Regions from separate parts of the Homo sapiens genome. Here region 2 is linked to region 1. The links come from fine-mapping of genetic effects on plasma protein levels. A gene starts in region 1. The other region holds a variant in brackets. All regions are shown on one strand. Distances are between the middles of the regions. Region 1 holds the start of EGLN1 (egl-9 family hypoxia inducible factor 1). Region 2 has its middle 39 kb from the start of TSNAX-DT.

Evidence for each region. A credible set is the group of variants that fine-mapping cannot tell apart. PIP is the chance, under the fine-mapping model, that this variant and not a neighbour inherited with it causes the effect. The UK Biobank Pharma Proteomics Project read protein levels with antibody pairs (Olink). The fine-mapping took linkage between variants from a reference panel, not from the people measured, so its PIPs are less certain.
Region 2: its variant is the best candidate, but not a certain one, in a credible set for the plasma level of the EGLN1 protein (UK Biobank, PIP 0.65).

Annotation. Positions count from the first base shown.
Region 1 is chr1:231,417,638-231,425,975 of GRCh38, forward strand. It overlaps EGLN1 (egl-9 family hypoxia inducible factor 1), which reads right to left and starts at 4,650. Exons shown (of 5, transcript NM_022051.3): 1 at 3,361-4,650. The coding sequence starts at 4,251. RefSeq lists an enhancer at 3,206-3,475 and silencers at 3,856-5,035, 4,791-5,115.
Region 2 is chr1:231,484,909-231,493,246 of GRCh38, forward strand. No RefSeq gene overlaps it. Among named protein-coding and RNA genes, the nearest start is that of TSNAX-DT, 39 kb to the right of the region's middle. The variant A/G (reference allele first, on the strand shown) is at 3,715.

The sequences.
Region 1 (8,338 bases):
AAAAGACCAGAGAAAGTGGAAACAGGAGCTTGGTTGTATCAGTGGCTACAATTACATTTCTGTTTTTCTCCTGTATGACTTCATTTTTCCCTTATGGTTCCTTTTTTAAAGTAGTTGCATAAACAGCGGCCAGATAAGCATGTTTGAAGTAGAAATTCAGGGGAAAACAAAGCCTACACTGAATGGGCCACAGACTATCATGTATCATCTGATTACCATGCCCTGACATAAAGAGCATGCAATATACATGATGTAAATAAAAAAGAACATCAGATTCTTAGTCAGAAAACCTGAATTTAAGTCCTAATATGCTGCAGAATTTCCAACAAGTGAACTAACTTTTCCTGAGTCCCACTTTTCTAATCTATAAAAAAAGGGATACAACCACCTGCCTACTGCTGTGAAAGTTGAAATGAGAAAAATACTACACATTTGCTGCATATAACTTTTAAAATCACTATAATGTTATGAAGGATAAAATTCTGAATTGAAGTCTCCCTCTGCAATCACATAAAAAAACCATATTCTGACATCTGTTAACAGTATACTGACAGGCGCATAATTCAGGTGGATAAATACAAAAGTGGCTTTTAAGCCACTATCTGAAATAAACATTGTACAGTCACCTAATAAAAAGTTTTACACAGCCCAACCATAGAGTATGATTACTCACATATAAAGCTAGTGCTATTCACCCACTTTCAACAAAATATATGTATCAAATTGCAGTTCCAGCAGTGTGCTAAATAATCTACATCTCATTTAATGTTCTACCTATAACTAGCGTAGTTAAAAAAGAGCATGGGTTTGATATCTGAATGACTTAAGTTTGAACACCAGCCAGGGTTATAGTAAGTGGTAGACCTCTGCCAAGTCTGAGCTGAAAATCCCTCAAATGTAAATTAGGAATAACACTACTCACTTCACAGAATTAAGATTATTGTGGCCAGGTGAGGTGGTTCAAGTCTGTAACCACAGTACTTTGGGAGGACAAGGCAGGAGGATCCCCTGAGCCGAGGAGTTCGAGATCAAATGATCAGCAAGACCCTGACTCTACAAAAAAAATTTTTTTTCATTTGGCCAAGTATGGTGGTGTGTGCCTACAGTCCCAGCTACTCGGAAGCTGAGATGGCAGGATAGCTTGAGTCCAGGAGGTGGAAGCTGCAGTGGGCCATGCTTACACCCTTGTACTCCAGCCAGGGCAACAAAGCAAGACCCTGTCTCCAAAAAAAAAAAAAAAAATACTCTGATTGTATCTGTATTGATCCTAATATGATGCCTAACACACTGTGGTTGGTTGCTCAATATACGGTGGGTGGTTATTTTGATTGCCTTCTCATTTCCACAAAGCAAACACCCTTGTTTTTTAGGAATAAATTACATGTTCAAACACGATTACCAAAACCTCTTTCAGCCAAGAAGTACAATGAAAGGAATTCCTGAATATCATTTATAGATCCTGAAGTTGCGTCCCTAAAATTAATATAAGCAGATCAAATCCAAAGAGTTTAAAGGTCATCCCTCCTTCATCCTGTCCCTTATTACCTGCTAATATGTACAGTTACGTGACTTAAAACCCCAACAACTAGAACTCTTGAGGAAGGAGGTACCTATTTCCTAATAGCATCTCTATGAGAAGCATTTGCTCTAAGAGCCAGGCTGTCTGCTGTCCCTTCTCTAAGGACAGGTGAAAGCAGGAAGACAAAAGAGAAAAGAGGTCTCAGCTTAACTTGGAAAGCTAAATTAACTAAGGAAAGCAGATCAAGAAAGATTTGGGACATCATCTTCTTCAAGAATCCAATTTAAGCTTATGTCCCAACTATATACTTTGGTCAGTCTTCACAGCCCTATTGTCTCAAACTAATTTCTTTCCTGCTCTGGAGCTCAGGACTTTATGTTCAGATGTGACAATTTCTTAAAGTTGTGCCCTGACAACTTTCTTAAAAATTTTATCAATGAAAATCTAGTGAAAGACCAACGCTGAAATTTCATCAGATCCCCCTTTTCCTTCCAGTTTAATATTATTCAACTGTTCCTTTTTAAGACTACAAGAAATTAAGACTTGTGCCTTCATCCAGCAATGAAGTGGCAATAGGTAAATTAGACTCCACATTGTATTTTTCCCCACAAAATGTTCACGTTTATAACTTTCTCACTGCCTATGTTCAGTCTTTCGGGCAGCCTGAGAATCACATGTAATGACTGTCAAAGTAGATGATCTGACACACACATACAGAAAAACCACTAGTTAGAGTCAGCGTGTGTGTACAAACATGCAACTGTGATGCTCTCCCAGGTCAATCTCTCAAAACCCACAAAATCAGAGACTGATGGTGGAGGAGGGTGGCCTGGGAGCAGCCACAAAGAAAAGATCAAGATCTGAGAAGTAAAATGAAAAAGAGCTGCAAGAGAGTTGGTTAAGGACGAAAGAGTCTACTGTTTATCATGAGGGAGGAAAGAGGGAATAGACTAGGTAAGAAGTGAAGAAATCTGTGGAGGAAAAACCGCAATAGTAAAGAGAAAACAAAAAGATCTCACCAAATTGGGAGGATAAAACGAGCCCTCCTGCGCCAATTCCGTGTTGTTGTTTTGTTTTGTTTTGTTTTCCAGGAAGTTACAAAACAGTTTTCAACAGAAGGATTACATTAACAAAGCAAATAAAGGAAACTGGTGCTAAAAATGTAGCCTACCTACACTGAGAGGCCTGAAGACGGAAATACTTCTTTCCCCTTTTTGTAACGGGTTTCAAAACAGTAGGAACAGGGTGAGGGATAAGAGCTATAACAGGGGGAGGGGAGTAGCCAAGCTCTTCCTGAATACAGAGTCTTTCGACTAAATGCTTATTTTAAATGTACCTTTTTGCGGTCAGCCGGCAAATTCCTAACTGAACACAGCGTTTGACTCTCAATCGAAATGTGATGAGTGGTTCAGACACCATAGGAAATTTAACAGCTTATGCAAACACAAGGCAGATGCAGAACCAGGACTTGCTTTGGGTGGTACTCTAACACCCCTTCACTGGGTGGCTAAAACGCCACTAAGGTTTGAATTGTGACCAATAGTGGAATGGAAAAAAGAAAATAGGAAAGTTAAAGCGCCTACGTTGAGTCAAAAAACCATGCAATTAGCCGGAGAAGTTTGTGAACGGGCAGTAAGTGGAAAACAGTGGATACAAAGGGGCTAACTAGATAAACAGCTACTACAAATTCTGTCCGTCTTCCTTACGGGGAGCTACACAAGAAAGAGCGAGTCCCTTCTATATAGAGGAATGCTGCTTCTCAGCCTAGGCAGTTTCAGTCGCAGGCAGGGGCTGCCCGCCGAGAAGGGCCTGTCCAGCACAAACCCGCAGCACACACTTACTTTCGTCCGGCCATTGATTTTGTAGCTGCCCAGCTTCCCGTTACAGTGGCGTATCAGGTCGTCCATGCTGCTCATGAGCAGCCCAATGGTTTCGCAGCCGGGCTCCTTGCCCTCGATCCAGGTGATCTTATCGCCTCGGATGTCCTTGGACGAGTCACTCTTCTGGCTGACCAGCTGCCCGTCCGTGAACTTCCCGGTGTCGTGCAGGGCGCGCACCTCGTCGCCGATCTGCTGTCCGGTCTCCTTGCCGAGGAAGTCGTCCACCACACAGATGCCGTGCTTGTTCATGCACGGCACGATGTACTCGAGCGCCAGCTTCAGCGCCGGCAGGGGCTTCGTCTGCCCGTTGGGCCGCAGGCCGCCGCCGGGGCTCAGCGCATCCCCGGGCGTGTTGCTTGGGGGGTACAGGTTCGCCTTCTCCTGGAACAGCGATGAGCGGGCCGGCGGCTCCTCCTTGCCGGGCTCGGCTTCGGCAGCCACCGCCGAGCCCTGGCCGCCGGCGGCCGCACGACACGGCGACGCGGCCGCCGCTGGGTCGGCCGGGGGCTTGGCCTTTACTTTTCCCTTGGCCGCGTCCCCGGAGGCGTTGTCCCGGCGCGCCGCTGCCTTCCTGGGCTCCCGGGCCCCGGCCCTGGGCGGCGGCACTGCAGCCGGCGGCGCGGGGCCGGAATGCTGGTGTGGGCCCACTCCGTGGCCGAGGGCGCCCTCGCTGCCCTGGCACACGAGCTTGTGCTTCTTCCAGTCCTGACGCTGGTGCTCCTTGCAGCAGTAGAAGGAGCTGCGGCAGCGGCTGCAGCGCAGCAGGTTCTCCATCTTCCCGCACAGCTCGCAGTACTGCCGGTCTCGCTCGCTCGGGCTCGGCCCGCCGGGCCCGCCGCTGTCATTGGCCATGGCGGCGGCGGCGGCGGCGACGGCGACTGCGGCGGCCGAGCAGGAGGGGTAGCGGCCGGACGGCCTCGCCCGAGGCTGGGGAGCGGGGAGAGAGATAGGGGCCGTTACTGCGCCATGCACCCGCTACCCTCGCCTCAGGGAGGCCGGCACCCCACGCCCTCGGCCCGGCCGCTTCCGAGTCCTAAGCTCCGGCGCAGCGCCGGCAGCCGCCTCAGCGCCTCATCGCCGCCGAGGGCTGAGAGAATAGGGCCTGTGCGGCGAATGGCAACCTGGGCTCAGGCGCGCGGGCCTGGGGAGCGCAAGACCGGCCCCCTCGGCCGCCGCCGCCGCCTCAGCGTCCCGGGCGGCCCGGCCCAGGCTGTGGAGGAGCGCAGGGCATACGGGCGCCACTCGCTCTGCGCGCTCTGCACGTACACCACGGCCCCGCGGCGACCCGGGCGGGCGGCGCGCGAGGGCGGAGGGGGCGGAGGGAGGGCCGGGAGGGCCGGGGGGAGGGCCGAGGGGCGGGGGCTGCCTGCGCTCCTCCGCACTCGGCGGGGCCGGGCCTCGGCTTCTGCCTCGGAGGTGGGTCGCCCGCTTTCCCTCCGCCCGGGACCGGACTGGGACGCCGAGAGGCCGGTGCGCTACCTCAGCCCGCAGCGGCCTCCTCGGGGACGCCGAGGCGCAGGCCCGCGAGCGGCGGAAAGGCGTGGGGCAGCGCGGCAGCGCCTACACCTGCTGGAGGAGGGCGCCAGCCGCAAGCGGGTAGCGGAGCGAAGGCGGCGTAATCATGGCTGCTCTTCCTCCAGGCCGGCGCGGGGTGTGCGAGGCTCGCTCCAGTCAAGGTTGCAAGGTGGCTATTGCGATCCTCATTTTGCAGAGGAGGAAACGGAAATTCAGAGAAGTAAAGTAACTTGCCCAAGGTCACGCAAAACTGGGACTGAATCCAGGAATCAGGCTCCCAGATTCCAAGGCTGTTTTTTCCATTACACCATACAGCCTCTATTTCAAGAAGCCCTGAAATGGTTAAGAACAAAATAAGTATTACTATGGTGTTAATCCAATCTCTTGCGCCCCGTTTCGACCTAGTTTAAAGGTAATGAAATTTGAGGGTTTTAAAAAAAATCAAAAACTCATTTTTAAAACCTTTGAAATCCCGCCGAGTTCAAAACCCCATGAAGAAATTTTGGGCTACCAAGTTAAATGTAATCAATGCTCATTCCAATATCCAATTTAAACTGATGGGATTATTCCTGAAAAGTGAATTTTGATGGTAAATGAGCAGTACTACATTAACGACTCTCACATTTATTTTTAATAGAATCTGTGCTGCGCGGATGAATACAATTCTTTGTTTTACAGAGCATAAAAACCTTACCAGAAATAAGCCAAAGATGTTTCTTTCTGCTGCTATTTGTCTTAAGAATTAAAAGGTCTGTGATTTCGAGTTTATCAATCTTTATCGAACACTATGTGGAAAGTGGGGTGCTAGGCTTGTGTATCACTTGAGTATACTGTAACTTCAGTCCTTGAAATATAGCCTTCCAAACTTAAAAAGTTGTAATATGTATTTCAAAAGCAGGATATAAGGAATTATTGTAAACCATATTGTAGAAGTTTAAAAAGAGGCTTGAATCCAAAAATATAAAACCTCTTCATCAAATATACAGAATTTAAAACTGTTATAAAATCCTGCTGCATGCGTAAATGGCATTCTGGGGATCCAATCAAGTGAAAGAGGATGATAATTCCAATTAGCTTGTCCTTTGGGAAACTGAGATAAATATACTCACATCTTCAAATTTCAAACCGAACTAAAAATCCAAGTTTCTGTAAAGAATTTAGACCTAGACCTGTCTTATGTGTATCCTACTTTCCCAGAGCTTTATTAAATACAGTAAAATGTCATTGTTGCAGACATTACTAATTAGGCTGTTCAACAAATGCATTGAGAGTCCTTGACAAACAAATGAATTAGTCATACTACACTCAGAGACACATAGTCCAATGCAGGAGGCAGGTATGTAAACAAGGACAATCCAGAGTTCAGAGTTTCCTAAAAGAGGGATGAATAGGATGGAATGGGAACACAGAAAAAGGAATTGCTAGCTCTGCCATTTGCACTAATAAAATCCAAGCAAATTAATTCAGAAATTCTTAAAATATAAAGGAGCTATCTCATGGCTTACGAAAATAAGCATTTAAAACATTTTTCATACACATAAATTATGTAAAATGTAATTTAAATACAAGTAGAGTCTAATACTTCTTAGGCTTCCTTTTGCTATAGTAATTATACATGAGGCTTAATTATTCACAAGAGCAGGAACTTTACTAGGAGGACTCATTCCACAAACACTTGATTCTTCCAACAATTTCTTTTAAATTTGCTATTTCAGTCTGTGGTGTGTCCACAAATTATTTACATCTCTATATGCTCTACTCATATATTTTCATTGAAGTTTACTTAAAAGAATAGATGTCCATATCAAAACCTTTATTAGCTTTCTTGTTCCAATTAAGTATACAAAATCACAAATTGAACATGTATATCCTAAATATACTTAATCCATCAAATAGAACACTTGCAACACTTTAATGAATACAACAGGAAAATATAAAATACTGATTTCAAATAGTTCCAAAGATCCTTGATTTCAGGATTTTCACCTATTCAGGCTTAATAATCTGAACTAATTCCAAATTAGTGAGTTTTCACCACACCATATGCTGGTGAACAATCTTGTCACCAACACGATTCTGGAACTCCAGTAGCATTGTCGCAGCCGCCACTTACTCAGATGTTATAGAGAGACTTCAAAATGTCATGCAAGTATTTATTTATTTATTTACTTATTTAAACTTTAACGGAAGGCAACACAAAGGAATTTATCTTATAAACACATGTGGTGCTTGCTGTTATGTGCCCAATCTGTGTTCTAAGCATTTTAAAAATATTAACCAATTTAATCATCATACAATGCTATGAAGTGGGTACTATTATTCTACCAATTTTACAGAAGGTGAAACAAATAGAGAGTGAGGCAATGAATGTCCCTCCCAATCCTTAATATTGTATGATTAGGAGCACTAGGTGGGTTAACTAATACTCTGGGGCAAACAAAGCCTTGTGTCTCTCAAAGCCATTAATTATTACAAATGTTTTTCTGCCCCTAACCTAATCAAAAGCAACTGTTCTAGAAACTGAAGAATGAATTAAAGTAACAGTGCTTTCCTCTCCATATCATACCAACTTAGACAAAGCTAATTGACCACCTATTTGGCTTCCCTTTGCTCTTCTGGCAGTATTTAGTTAAGCTATAAAGAAGTAGCCACTGTGAACTGACAAGAACTAAAAGAGGCAAAGCTTATGTTAACTACAAGAACAGAATTGAAGGAGGAAATGAATTTAGAAACGACTGTGTTGACTCTTGAGGAAAGCCCACTGAACAACAATCTGCCTTCCAAGGAGTAGCCCTATTTCTCCTTTAAAAATGTTTTTAAAAACACAACAGAGTATCTTTTCTGCTCAAGAAATCGAACATCTGATTGTTAACTAATGACCTCTTGTTTCCCCATCTGTGACAATCTTGTTTTAATAGGTTACAGAGAACAGAAAAATCACAAGTATAGCATAGGCATTCCACCAAGATAAACAGGAAGACAATCTTTGAGTTCTGGGAAAAGCAACTCAAAAATCTGAGCCATTTTCTAACTATAGTATTAGGACACACACAAGTAGGTGTCATTGGAAAACAGCACCTGCTTGTCTCTGTACTGGGGGTTCTGCCAGATGCACACGTGAGCTATGTGCTTCTCCTTGTACATGGAGACAGCTGTACTTTCCACCAAGGTTGTTCCCTTATGAAAACAAAATAATTGAATAGATTTGCTATATATTGGGGCGATTTATCAGTCATCAAACTTTATCAGTTTATGATTGAAAAATTACCACCAATCCTGTTAAAATTGATCATCTCAGAAATATAACAAAAATTTATAATCATCTCTCATTATAGCGAATTTTTTAAATAAATGCTCAAAAACCTGGGATACTAAATAACGTGTCGATCTAATTTTTTTTCCTAACAAACATTACCTTAATGTT
Region 2 (8,338 bases), 67 kb after region 1:
TCACAGCAAAAGAAAAATCAGGCATTTCAAAAAGAGCATGGAAGTTGTCAACTTTCAAAACTGTTCAGAAATTATTTTATTTGTTTAGTCAAATATTTTCTAATCCGTAACGTGCCATGAACAACAAAGGGCACAACCATCAAAAGATTACCTCTGTGTAGGCCCCAGGCCAAAATGGTATGCTTTACAACTTACCAGAATCTCTCATTTGATCTTCCACAGCAACCTTATATTAAAGGCAGCTTATATATTCTCATTTTACAGATGTGGAATTTGAAGCTTACGTGATTTGCCCAAGGTCACATTGCTGTTTAAAGTAAAATAGAGATTAGATTGCAGAAGGTTTGACTCATGGTTGGGACCTTTCCCACTACTCTTTGTGGCTTCTAATTCTTGAAATGTTATTATTGAGAGCACTCAATAACTGTTAACAATTATTGCCATTATTTTTATTTTTGTACTGAGCCTTATGAGATATGTGTTGTTATTATTTCACTGGAGAATAGGGATGTACGTGTCTTGCTTGCTAAAGAGCTAATGCAGCTTTATGAACAAGCAAACTATAGAGAAGTTTGATCTGCCGACAATGTTATAGTAATTCTCATTATGAAGATTTGGGTTTTACGGTACTTTGGCTCAAAGCCTGAGATGATGTCGTTTTTAATGATTCAAGGCATCTACAAAAGTTAAACCTCTTAACCACAGCTGACTGGGTAAAATGCATCGAACAGGCTTACTTTTGTAATAAAACAATCCATGTTATGGCATCTGAAAGGGCAGGTTTTCAGAGACTGGCTCAGGAGGGTGGCTTAAGAAATGTGATTAAATAAGAATTGCCAACCAGTTATTACCTAGGTGGCTGCTGGGAGGGGTTGAGTGACATGGGAGAGACAGCTTGAGGTTCTCAGAGCATCCTCCCTAGTGAGTTCCTGCCCAGGATGTTCGGGGCTGATGCTGTGAAACTGGAGTCTAGGAGTTAGGCTTGAGCCTGTGACCATAGGATCAAATGTGAACAGGAGGATCTTGGACAAAGTCATTTCTTAGGTAAGCTGAAGGACTTAGAGTTCCCACTTCCAGGATATATGGAATGGCACACATGCGTTGTGGAGACACACAGACATTCAGGCTTCCAGGGAGAGTACAATTAAGTAAAATGTGAAACCTGATTCTGTACATTCTTATTGTCCCAGTGAATCAGACACTTTTTTTTTTTCATAAATTTTTACTTTGGGCTTTTATTGTTGGAGACAGTATAGGATTGCTGCTGGAAATATGGCTCTTTGAGTTAGTCTGACACAGCTTCAAGGACCAGCACCAGTGTATTTTATTTGTTAATGTTAGCGCTATTGAAAATAAATCTCAGGCTGGCTGTGGTGGGTCACGCCTGTAATCCCAGCACTTTAGGAGGCTGGGGATGGCAGATTACCTGAGGTCAGGAGTTCAAGACCAGCCTGGCCAACATGGTGAAACCCTGTCTCTACTAAAAATACAAAAATTAGCCAGGCGTGGTGGCGGATGTCTGTAATCCCAGCTACTCGAGAGGCTGAGGCAGGAGGAGAATCGCTTGAACCCAGGAGGCGGAGGTTGCAGTGAGCCAAGATCGTGCCATTGCACTCCAGCCTGGGCAACAGAGTGACACTCCATCTCAAAAGAAAAAAAAAAATCTCAAATTTTCAGAGTATAATGTTCTTGGTTAGGTGGCTTTCCATGTGGTCATTCAAGGACTCATACCCCTAGGACATTGTGGCTCCCACCCTCCTCTAGGTCCTTGGTGTTCTCTCCATTCAGCTAGTAGATTACAAGAGAGAGAACACCTGGGAAATCGTGAAGGTATTTTTGTGGGCCAGTTCTAGCCGAGGTGTGCATCACTTCTTTGTATGCTATTAGACAGAACTTAGTCACAGGGCTTCCCTGAGATGCAAAGGAGCCTGGCTTATGCAGTTTCTGGAGAGCGAACCCCTTCTCAGCAATAGCTCCACACTACGGAAGCAAGCATGAGTCTACGGTGAACATTGTCATCTCTTCCACAACCACCTTGGCTGCTTAGCAACAATATGGCTTGGGTAAAGTTTCTCATCCCCTCTAAGCCTTAGTTTGGGATCTGCAAAATGGGAATACAAATACAGTCTCAATGCTACATATCTGTTTCTGCAAGGCTAATTAGCCCATATGCAATTGGTAAACAAGGATATGTTATCCATGAACACAGAAGTGGCATTGGTTCATATTTAAGTTTTCTCCTTACAGATTAACATTGTGTGTCACTGTATAATAGCAGCTGAATGCAAAGTCCATGAACACAGATGAGTCAGCCATGCATGCTTACCCCACACGCTTCCTCTGGGCTGAGTCCCACCATATGGTCTGTCTTGCAATTGCTTACTACATTGTTTCCCTGACTTTTGTGCATTTTTACCTGGTCTTCATAACTCAGCAACAGCAAACTTTCCTTATATTCTCTTCTATTAAGCTGATTTAATTTTCAACTTCTTTTAAAATAATTACAGGCTGACAGAAAAGTTTCAATAACAGTACAAAAAGTTCTAATGTACTCTTCACCCAGGTTCCCTAAATGTTAACAGGTTACCACAATTGCTTTATCTTTATCTGTCTATATTGGTTTTTTTCTGAGTTATTTGGATGATTTACATACATAACATCCATTAATCCCTAATCCTTAATTGTGTATTTCCTAAAAACAAGAACATTCTCTTATATAACTACAGTAAAATGATCAAAATCAGAAAAAATACATTGATAATTATACATATTTTAATACAATATTATTATTTAATCTGTAGCCCTTATTCAAATTTAATAGATTGTCCCAATAATGTCCTTTACAGCAAAGGAAAAAATGTATTTCCTGGTCCAGGATTACATGTTGCATTTAGCTGTTAGGTCTTTTTTTTTTTTTTTTTTTTTTTTAATTAATAGAGTAGAAAGAACAGAGAGTTCCCAAATACCTCTCTCCTGTCTCCCCTCCATAGTTTGTCCTATTATTAACATCTGGCATTGGTGTGGCACATTTGTTACAATTGATGAGCCAATATTGACACATTGCTGTTAATTAAAGTCCAGAGTTTACAATACACTCTTTGCGTTGTATATTCAGTGGGTTTTGACAAAGGTATAAGGACAAGTATCCACTATTACAGAACAATTTCACTCCCTGAAAATACCCCGTACTCCACTTATACATCTTTCTCTCCCATAGAGCCTTTTTAGACTGGCCTATGCAATGTGCATTTAGGTTTCGTCCATGTCTTTTTGTGGCATGAGAGCTCTTTTTGCTTTTCTTGGTTGTGTGTTTTTTGTCTCCTCTAATCTGAATAAGCTCCTTAGCCTTCCTTTGTCTTTTATGACCCTGCCATTTTTGAAGAGTATAAGCCAGCCATTTTATAAAATGTCCCTAGCTTCACTTTTTTGTATCAACTTAAAATGTCTTTATTTTTAGAAAGTTAAGGTGTCCTTTAAATTGTGATATTTTCATTATAATTGTTATTTAAGTACATTTGTTAGTGCTCTAATTTATAAAGTTGCATTGGTCTTTAGCAACCTGACTTAATCCTGTTTTTCACATAAGTCTATTATTTTTTGTGTGCAGTTTTGCAGAAGGCAAATTTTTCTTTAGAAAGTATCAAAGAGAAAGTAGGGAACTGGAACTTCAAGATAGGCAACAAGTAATAATATTTGTACTATCAAAGTCCCTGA[A/G]AAAGCAAATAAAATAATGAAACAGAACTAATATTTAAAATTATAATCCAAAAAACTTTCCAAAAATAAAAAGCTGAATCTATGAATTGAAAGAGCTCACTTAGGTACATGAGAAAATTCATCCAGAATGATCAACTCTGAGACACATCCTAGTAAAATTCATAGACCCAAAGATGAAGTCCTTAAAATCTCCAGGTAACAAGATCAAATATGCAAAGAGGAAAATTAGACTAGCATCAGACTTCATAAAACAATACAAAGTCAAACAACTGAGGAACAAGTTTTTAAGGCACTCACTCAAATAAATTGTGAATTAAGAACTTTATTTTCAGCTAAATTGCCCCTCAATGTGACGACTATAGAGAAACAGTCTCAATATACAAAAATGTAGAGAATTCTGTATCAATAAATCCTTTTGAGGAATTTATTAGAGAATGAACTTTCATCCAACCAGTAATGGCAGGAGAAACTTGAGTAAAAGAACTGATGGTAAGCATTTAATAATCTATAACTATACATAAAACTAAAACAAAGGTGGAGATGAGGATGGAAAACTAGCATACAAATGTTATATATTATGATAAAGTAGAAATAATATATCTTAAAAATAGGCAGTATAAGAAGAGGGAGAAAGAAAAGTAGAAAAAGCTCATTGTTTGAGGAGTAATAGGGGGATGTTAAGAGATACTGGAAAAAAAGCAAGCCTGATAAACAAGACAACAAAAGGTTAATTAACAAACGGGGGACCAAGAGCACTGAAAAAGATATAAATACAAAGGTAACCACTAAGATAAAAATATAAACTTTTCTAGAAAACCATAAATAAAATAGTAAAGAATACAAATCTCATAAACACAGGAAATATAACAAAATATAATAAAATGTTATGATTAATACCAAACATGTCACTCATAGCAATAAATGTGAATAGGTTTAATTCACCTATTAAGACCAAAAGACTCTCAATTCGTCTGACAAAACTAAAGCACAGCTATATAGTAGATAGCAGGCACACCTAAAACAAAAAGATTCAGAAAGGGTAGGTGAGAATAAAAGGATGAAAAAACCATATACCAGGCAAATGGAAATAAAGAGGGAGCAGGGGTAGCAATATCTATATTAGATAATGTAGACCTGGAAATGTAAAAAAAAAACAAAAAACTTCTTATTAAATAACTCTTGGCTGAAATGAGAAATACAAGCTGAAATACATTTATTTACTTATTTTTTTTTGAGATGGAGTCTCGCTCTGTCGCCCAGGCTGGAGTAGAGTGGTGCGATCTCAGCTCACTGCTGGCTCTGCCTCCCCAGTTCACGCCATTCTCCTGCCTCAGCCTCCCCAGCAGCTGGGACTACAAGCGCCCGCCACCACGCCCGGCTAATTTTTTTGTATTTTTAGTAGAGACGGGGTTTCACCGTGTTAGCCAGGCTGGTCTCGATCTCCTGACTTCGTGATCGGCCCACCTCGGCCTCCCAAAGTGCTGGGATTACAGGCATGAGCCACCGTGCCTGGCTGAAATACATTATTTTAAACAAATAATAGATAATAAAAACACTACGTATTAGAATCTATGGGATGTATTTAAAACAGTACTTAGAGAAAAATTAATTACACTACCTTTTCTCTAAAAGTGAAAGGACAAAAATAATGAATTAAATTTATAGTTCAAACAATTAGAACAGTTTAAAACAAAAGAAAACAGTAAAGATAAAAGCAGAGATTAGTGAAATAAAGAATAGAAAAACAGTAGCTCTAACAAATTGAAATCTTGGCTTTTTGGGGGACGAAATAAAATAGGCAAACTACTAACTAAATTGATGAAGAACAAAGAAAGTATAATATGTAGAGTAAGAAGTGAAAAGGGCGAAATAACCTTTCAAACAAAAGAAATTTTAAAAGTCAGAAGAGACTACTTTGCTGACCTCTAGACAAATAAATTGGAAAATCTGGATGAAGTGCATAATTTCTTACAGAAATACATTTTACCAAAATTAGCTCTGTTAGGTTTACAAAATTTAACCAATTTCCATAGAAGAAATGAAGACAGTTATTAAGAAATCACCCTGCAAAAAAAAAAACGCCAGGCCCAGATGTTTTCACGAGTGAATTCTACCAAGTTTTGAAAGACCAGGTCCTAACAGCTTATAAATTATTTCAGAGCATGGAAAATGAAAGAAAATTTCCAAACTGTTTTTATGAAATAGGAATAATGTTAGTACCTAAACCAGACAAAGACAGTACAAAGAAAAAAAAACCCTACCGATCTATGTCACTTTTGAATATCAATGAAAAAATGTTAAGTAAATTATTAGCAAATAGAATCTAAAACCACACTAAGAAAATAGTACACCATTGCTAAGTGGGATTTATTTGGGGACTGCAAACTTGGTTCGATATTAGAAACTCCATTAATACTATTGTATTAGGGTTTTCTAGAGAAGCAGAACCAATAAAATACATATATCTATATAGTCATGTGCTGTATAATGATGTTTCCATTAACAATGGATTACATACAACATTGGCCTCATAAGATTATAAATGATTTTTTTTTTTTTTTTTTTTTGAGACGGAGTCTCGCTCTGTCACCCAGGCTGGAGTGCAGTGGCGCAGTCTCGGCTCACTGCAAGCTCCGCCTCCCGGGTTCACGCCATTCTCCTGCCTCAGCCTCTCCGAGTAGCTGGGACTACAGGCGCCCGCCACCACGCCCAGCTAATTTTTTTTTTATTTTTAGTAGAGACGGGGTTTCACCGTGGTCTCGATCTCCTGACCTCGTGATCCACCCGCCTCGGCCTCCCAAAGTGCTGGGATTACAAGCGTGAGCCACCGCGCCCGGCCTATAAATGATATTTTTACCATACATTTTCTATGTTTAGGTATGTTTAGATACACAAATACCCTTGTGTTACAGTTGCCTACAGTATTCAGTATAATAACATGTTGTACAGGTTTGTAGCCTAGGAGTAACAGGTTATGCCATATAGCCTAGGTGCGTAGTAGGCTATACGATCTAGGTTGGCGTACGTATGCTATATGGTGTTTGCACAATGACAAAATTGCCTAACAATGCATTTCTCAGAACATATTCCCAGCATTAAGTGATGCATGACAGTATATATAAAGAGATTTTTCATAGGTTATTGGCTCCCATGATTGTGGAGGCTGAGAAGCCCCATAATTGGCTATCTGCAAGCTGGAACTGAGGAAAGCCAGTGATATAGTTCCAGGCTAAGCCTGAAGGCTTGAGAACCAAGAGAATCTATGCTGTAAGTTCTAGCCCAAATTTGAAGGCCTGGGACCAATTTTCCAGCTCAAGCAGTCAGGCAGAGAGAGTGAATTCTCCCTTTCTAAGCCATTTTGTTTTGCTTAGGCTCTCAACGGATTAGATGACACCCACCCACACTGAAGAGGGCCATCAGCTTTACTTACTTAGCCTACCAATTCAAATGCTAATATTTTATGGAAACACTTTTGCAGACACATCCAGAATTATATTTAACCAAATATCTGGGCACCCAGTGGCCCACTCAAATTGGCATATAAAAGTGTCACAACTATATGTCACATTAGAAAATCCAAGGAAAAACTCATAATTATGTCCATCAATGCTGACAAGGTCTTTGACAAAAGTCAACAACCACTCGTTACTTTAAAAAAGAAACGCTCAAAATAGGAATTGAGACATACTTTCTTAACACAATATAGTATGTATAGCCTAGTCTTTTAGTCAGTATCTTATTTAATGAGAAAACACTAGAGATGTTTCCATTAAGATTTTAATTTTAAATTTTTGTGTGTACATAGTAGGCCTATATATTTATTGGAATTAATAGTCTTTACATTAAATTCAGCATGACTCTAAACTGTAATCTAATCTGGCGAGAATGAAATTCAGTGTGTTGTTACTGTATTTCTACTATCAATTCTGACATCTGTGTGACTTGATTTGTTCCTATTAAGATTTCTCGGCCGGGCGCGGTGGCTCACGCCTGTAATCCCAGCACTTCGGGAGGCCGAGGCAGGCGGATTAAAGGTCAAGAGATTGAGACCATCCTGGCCAACATGGTGAAACACCGTCTTTACTAAAAATACAAAAAAAATTAGCTGGGCGTGGTGGCGTGTGCCTGTAGTCCCATCTGAGGCTGAGGCAGGGGAATCGCTTGAACCGGGAGGCGGAGCTTGCAGTGAGCCGACATCGCCCCACTGCACTCCAGCCTGGCGACAGAGCGAGACTCCGTCTCAACAAACAAACAAACAAACAAACAAACAAACAAACAAAGATTTCTAAGAGAATAAACCTTCTGTGTCCCTCCTAGGAATTCTGTATGGTTGTAGGTATGTCCGGGGGTAGTAAAAAGGAGGGAACCGACAGGTCTTTCACACACACTTTCAACCCATCCTCCTATTTTCAGCCCCACACCTGACCTTCACTTTTGCCTGAAGTCTTAACCCTTTCTGTGATTTTGCAGGATGCCATCGACGAACTCTCAGCTTGTTCACTACCTCCTCCGTACATATAAGTAGTGTCTTTCTCTACCATGCTAACAGTTACGCTTACTTCCCTTTGCAGATTCTGAAAATCAGTTGAAATCTTGTATGTTACCATCTTTTTTCCTGATCTTT